Linked DNA regions of Homo sapiens. The protein of the gene in region 1 purifies or fractionates together with the protein of each later gene. This does not show direct contact. Each region holds a gene or a part of one and is shown on either strand. Other genes may lie near its edges.

The links.
Region 2: the proteins of PMCH (region 1) and SERPINC1 purify together in Homo sapiens (affinity purification with mass spectrometry; one large-scale study listed by BioGRID and IntAct). This does not show direct contact.

What each region holds. Positions count from the first base shown.
Region 1 is NC_000012.12:102,195,959-102,198,973, reverse strand, and holds PMCH (pro-MCH preproprotein), read left to right. Parts: upstream 1-1,140; 5' UTR 1,141-1,203; coding exon 1,204-1,452; intron 1,453-1,453; exon of another isoform or gene 1,454-1,802; coding exon 1,803-2,001; coding exon of another isoform or gene 2,002-2,009; exon of another isoform or gene 2,010-2,272; coding exon 2,273-2,322; 3' UTR 2,323-2,515; downstream 2,516-3,015. Other genes in the region: PARPBP (PCNA-interacting partner), read right to left, coding at 2,683-3,015. UniProt on the Homo sapiens protein: MCH may act as a neurotransmitter or neuromodulator in a broad array of neuronal functions directed toward the regulation of goal-directed behavior, such as food intake, and general arousal. May also have a role in spermatocyte differentiation.
Region 2 is NC_000001.11:173,907,328-173,910,827, reverse strand, and holds part of SERPINC1 (antithrombin-III isoform 1 precursor), read left to right. Parts: coding exon 1-74; coding exon of another isoform or gene 75-197; intron 198-885; coding exon 886-1,276; intron 1,277-3,313; coding exon 3,314-3,378; intron 3,379-3,500. UniProt on the Homo sapiens protein: Most important serine protease inhibitor in plasma that regulates the blood coagulation cascade. AT-III inhibits thrombin, matriptase-3/TMPRSS7, as well as factors IXa, Xa and XIa. Its inhibitory activity is greatly enhanced in the presence of heparin.

The DNA.
Region 1 (3,015 bases):
TAACTAACAATTAATATCCAGAATATATAAAGAACTCCCATAAATAAATTAGAAAAAGACAACCCAATAGAAAAATGGACAAAGCCAAAAAAGAAAAAAAAAAAAAGCATTTAACATAAGAGGAAACATAAATGGCTCAGAAACATATGGGAAGACACTTAACCTCTTTGGTAATTAGGAAAATACAAATTAAAAGGACAATGAGACACAAGAGTCAGCTAGGACATGGAACAATGGAAATTCTCATACCCTGCTTATCGAGGGCACAAATCGCTTACAACTATGTTGGAAAACATTTTGGCATTAGTAAAGCTGAACATATACATACTCCATGATCCAGTAATTCCATACTGAGAAATATACTCTAGAAAAATTCTTACATATATGTACCAGAAGACATATAAAAGAATGTATTATCTTATTCATTGGGGTCAAAATTAGAAATTAACTCTGAAATGTTTAATTAAAAGTCATACAACATAAACTCATCATCCAAAAGTAATGTTTATGGGCACATAAATATTCTTTTCATGGACTAATTCATTAATTTCTAAATTCATTAATAAATATTTGTACATATTATCCTTTTGTAAATGCAGAGATAAAATACACCTGACAGGTCAATTTTTGATATAGCATGAATGGCTTTTTGTTCACACTGACAGGCATATGTACTTTAATCACCAAAAACTATATCAAGTATTTATAAAAGAAAGTCTCTTTTGAGGATTATTTCAGTTTAATCAGGATTAAAAGGAAATAAAACTTTATCCTTATCATCCTTGAGTGAAATAACTTGAGTTTTAATATCTTTACTTAATCAGAAAATACACAAAAGGAAACAATAATATAGAGAGAGCCTGATGTCCTGTGGTCTTCCTTAATAACAACCCATTTTCAAGAGACTATAATCTACTCAACAGAAAGCATTCTACCAAGGATCTTAGTCAGATTCTGAGAAAATTCACACTCAAAATAAACAATGTGTCACTAAAACCAAAACAATGTAGGTATTAGCAGCTGCATAAAGGTTAGCCTCAATCTAATGAGTCATTTCTAAAATGATGAAAAGTATAATTCTTTGAAGTGCTTTCTATTCAAGCTAGAAAATATATAAAGATACAGAATCGTTTACCAAGCAGGCTGACAGAGAAATTTTTCATTTTCTTTCTTGTTTGACTGTATGCAAACATCAAACTAAGAATGGCAAAAATGAATCTCTCTTCCTATATATTAATACTAACTTTTTCTTTGTTTTCTCAAGGTATTTTACTTTCAGCATCCAAGTCCATAAGAAATTTAGATGATGACATGGTATTTAATACATTCAGGTTGGGGAAAGGCTTTCAGAAGGAAGACACTGCAGAAAAATCAGTTATTGCTCCTTCCCTGGAACAATATAAAAATGATGAGAGCAGTTTCATGAACGAAGAGGAAAATAAAGTTTCAAAGGTAAGTGGCAATGTGACTTGTCGTTTATTTCAATGAAAATTTAAATGATTCTTACAAATCCTCTGAAAAGTAAAACTGATACTTTTATAAACAGAAGTATATGCAAACAGTCACAATATGCATTAGGACGACTGACGATATTTCTTACATGCCAGGTAGTTCTTCCATCCCAGCAAACACCTCTTATCTGAAAGTGTTTTTTCTCCTATAAATTTGCATCTAAGGTATTTTTAAAAAGTCAAAAACAGTGCAGAGTAACTTTGAATTGATCAACAAGAATATTATACAATTGTATTATAGTTCCACTCCGAATACGATAGCTAAAAACCAAATCAACCTTCTCTTTACAGAACACAGGCTCCAAACATAATTTCTTAAATCATGGTCTGCCACTGAATCTGGCTATAAAACCTTATCTTGCACTAAAAGGATCTGTAGCTTTCCCAGCTGAGAATGGAGTTCAGAATACTGAATCAACACAAGAAAAGAGAGAAATTGGGGATGAAGAAAACTCAGCTAAATTTCCTATAGGAAGGAGAGATTTTGACAGTGAGTAGTCTTTTCAAAATTCAATTCTTACATCCTACCACCATTAAACAGAACTCTGAGTTAAAGTGAATTTGGATGCAATCATAACAAAATCAAATAAGACCATGGCTCAATTACACCTGCCAAAAATGTGGGATTAAATAGCAACAATTAATTATTATCATTTTGGTTTACTCAGAATTAGTTATACTAGATCCATTCTTTTTTTCTTAATAAATTTTGTGTGATAATTATAGTCCTTTAAACAATTTAAACTTTCTTCTTCCTTCAGTGCTCAGATGTATGCTGGGAAGAGTCTACCGACCTTGTTGGCAAGTCTGATACCTGTTGGTCCACATCATCTTTTCAGAAGAAAATAAAAGCATTTAATTGCCAATGGGAGGAGAAGCCCATACTGCTACTATAACTTGTGTATGTTAAATGTCTGTTTTAAAAGAAAGTAGTGTTAAGATGTATCAGTAACTGAAATGATATGCTTTCTCTGTGCATTAAACTTTGTGAAAATTCTGCATAATTATGACTTACTAGTATTTTTAAACAATGCTTAACATACTAACCTTACATACACTGTAGACCAAAATAATAAATCATCATAATTTACACCTTGATCTCTTAAAAATTAAGCATGTCTTTGGTGAATGGTTTATAGATACATAAACCTAAAGCATATAAGACACAAATTTATAGTCTAAAAAACTGAGTTAACTTTGCCTGGCCAGAAATCAACTTGTCCTTGGCAGTACATTTATTACTTTTTGCTACTTTAGCTAGTTTGCCGTACAATCTATTCTGTGAATCATTTGATTTCTTAGGTATTTTAGCATTTTTATGTTGAGGTGGTTCATTTCTATTATCACAGAGAATATTTTCACCATCCAAATCCACCTGTTTCCTTTTTGAGCTTTTATTTCCTGTCTGACTGGTTGATTTTCTTGATACTTTTTCATTTTTACTTCTGTCCAGATGAACATTTCCAAAACTCGTTCCAATTGTTGATCTTCCAACAGATGGATT
Region 2 (3,500 bases), on another chromosome or scaffold:
TCACCGATGTCATTCCCTCGGAAGCCATCAATGAGCTCACTGTTCTGGTGCTGGTTAACACCATTTACTTCAAGGTACTCAGAATGGCCCTGGAGAGACCCCAGGGACTTCCTCTTGCTCTTCAGCTTACCCCCTTTTTTTTTAAATGGCGAGACCGAAGCCCTGAGAGGGCAAATGGACTGCCGAAAGCTACACAGGTACAGGTCAGCAGGGCAGGTCAATCTATTATTTATTTATTTATTTATTTTTGACAGAGTCTCGCTCTGTCGCCCAGGCTGGAGTGCAGTGGCGTGATCTCGGCTCACTGCAAGCTTCGCCTCCTGGGTTCACGGCATTCTCCTGCCTCAGCCTCCCAAGTAGCTGGGAATACAGGCACCCACCACCATGCCTGGCTAATTTTTTGGTTTTTTTTTAGTAAAGACGGGGTTTCACCGTGTTAGCCAGGATAGTCTTGATCTCCTGACCTCGTGATCTGCCCACCTCGGCCTCCCAAAGTGCTGGGATTACAGGCATGAGCCACCGCGCCCGGCAGATTGGCTTCTTTCACCTAGTAAAATGCATTTACTGTTCCTTTGTGTTTTCGTGGCTTTGTCACTCATTTCTTCTTAGCATGGAATAGCATTACATTTGGTCTGGATGTACCACAGTCTGTCTATTCATCTACTGAAGGACATTTTGGCTGCTTCCAAGGTTTGACAGTTATGAATAAACCTACTCATAATTCCATCATTCTGACACAGCCATTGTTAACCTTTTTGTGCATATCCCGCCAGTCTTTTTTCCGAATAATTATATATTAATGTAACACTATAATATGGATATGTCTTGTGTCAATAACTATCCTCCTATGAATGTTTGTGTTCTTACTTTGTGATTCTCTTCCAGGGCCTGTGGAAGTCAAAGTTCAGCCCTGAGAACACAAGGAAGGAACTGTTCTACAAGGCTGATGGAGAGTCGTGTTCAGCATCTATGATGTACCAGGAAGGCAAGTTCCGTTATCGGCGCGTGGCTGAAGGCACCCAGGTGCTTGAGTTGCCCTTCAAAGGTGATGACATCACCATGGTCCTCATCTTGCCCAAGCCTGAGAAGAGCCTGGCCAAGGTAGAGAAGGAACTCACCCCAGAGGTGCTGCAAGAGTGGCTGGATGAATTGGAGGAGATGATGCTGGTGGTCCACATGCCCCGCTTCCGCATTGAGGACGGCTTCAGTTTGAAGGAGCAGCTGCAAGACATGGGCCTTGTCGATCTGTTCAGCCCTGAAAAGTCCAAACTCCCAGGTTTGTCTAGGAAGGAGTTTCCTCCCTTCTCCACCCGCAAGGTAGTCTGACCAAAAGTGGAAGAGTTGGAGAAAGAATAGAAAGGAGCAACAAGTCAGGACTCCTGGATACTGATCCTAGTTTCTACTGCTAATTTGTGGAAATCTCTTTTCCTTTTGAGACCTCAGTTTCCTCTTCTGTAAAAGGGAAGTTTGTTCTTGGATCTCCATGGGCCCAGCTAGCACTGGTGCCCTGTGAGTCTGTATCAGGTAGAGGAGATGGGACCAGGTGGAGAGGAATTTGAAAGGGCATTGGAATTCAGAGCAAAGAGACAGATATTAAGAGCTGGGGAAATGTGGTTCCCATTACACAGGCCTCACTGACATTTATTATTATTATTATTATTACTTGAGACAGAGTCTTACTCTGTTGCCCAGGCTGGAGTGCAGCGGTGCGATCTCGGCTCACTGCAACCTCTGCCTCCCGGGTTCAAGCGATTCTCATGCCTCAGCCTCCTGAGTAGCTGGGATTACAGGCACACGTCACCATACCTGGTAATTTCTGTATTCTTAGTAGAGATGGGTTTCACCATGTTGGCCAGGATGGTCTTGAACTCTTGACCTTGTGATCCGCCTGCCTTGGCTTCCCAAAGTGCTGGGATTACAGGCGTCAGCCACCGCACCTGGCACATTAAAATATCTTTTAAAGAAGTTGGCTGGCCAGGGTGGCTCACGCCTGTAATACCAGCACTTTGGGAGGCTGAGGTGGGAGGATCGTCTAAGCCCATGAGTTCGAGACCAGCCTGGACAACATAGTGAGATGGTCTCTACAAAAAATAAAAAAAATTAGCCAGGCATGGTGACGCACACCTGTAGTCCTAGCTTCTTGGGAGGCAGAGCTGGGAGGATTGCCTGAGTCCGGGAGGTCAACGCTGTGGTGTACTGTGATCACACCACTGCACTCCAGCCTGAGCAACAGAGTGAGGTCCTATCACTAAATAAATAAATAAATAATAAAATAAGTTTACGATGTTAAGTAATTAGATTTATCTTTATTGACCTTTTTTTTTTTTTTTTTTTTTTGAGACGAAGTCTTGCTCTTGTCCCCCAGGCTGGAGTGCAGTGGTGCAATCTTGGCTCACTGCAACCTCCACCCCCCAGATTCAAGTGATTCTCCTGCCTCAGCCTCCCAAGGAGCTAGGATTACAGGCGCCTGCCACCACGCCCGGCTAATTTTTGCATTTTTAGTAGAAACGGGGTTTCACTATGTTGGCCAGGCTGGTCTTGAACTCCTGACCTCAGGCGATCTACCTGCCTTGGCCTCCCAAAGTGCTGGGATTACAGGCGTGAGCCACTGTGCTATTGGGCTGTCTTTAAGCTAGTTTTGAAAACTAAAAATGTTGCCAGACTGGAAAGAAAGATGTTCCTTCTGGATGGAGTGAGTTTTTTCTGTAAGAACAGAGTCTTGCCGTTTCTCTCTCCCACAAAAAGCTGAAGCCTGAGAATGAATTATCAGGAGCCATGCTGAACAAGCCCAAAGTACTTTTATTATTATTATTATTATTATTATTATTATTATTATTATTATTTTTGAGATGCAGTTTTGCTCTTGTTGCCCAGGCTGGAGTGCAGTGGCGTGATCTTGGCTCACTGCAACCTCCACCTCCCGAGTTCAAGCGATTCTCCTGCCTCAGTCTTCCAAGTAGCTGGGATTACAGGCATGCGCCACCACACCTGGCTAATTTTTGTATTTTCACGATAGAGACAAGGTTTCACCATATTAGTTAGAGTGTCTCCAACTCCTGACCTCAGGTGATCTGTACACCTTGGCCTCCCGAAGTGCTGGGATTACAGGTGTGAGCCACTGCACCCAGCCCCCAAAGTACTTTATTATTTTTAACACATATTCATTGTGAGAGTATGATTAGGTGAAGATTTAGGATTTCTTCTTATGTTTCAAAAAGCCCCAAAGGATCTCTTAATCCAAACTGAATTCCCATCTGTGGGTTGAAGCCAACTTTCTCCCATCTCACAAAGACTTCTCCGGTCTTCCTTCCAGGTATTGTTGCAGAAGGCCGAGATGACCTCTATGTCTCAGATGCATTCCATAAGGCATTTCTTGAGGTGAGTACACCTTCCCCACTCTCTTAGGGTACAGAAAGGAGATGCATGAACAGCAGGAACACGTGGAAAAGGCCTGTTTCCAGTGTTAAGGCATGCAAAAGGCCTCCACAGGCCTGCTATAA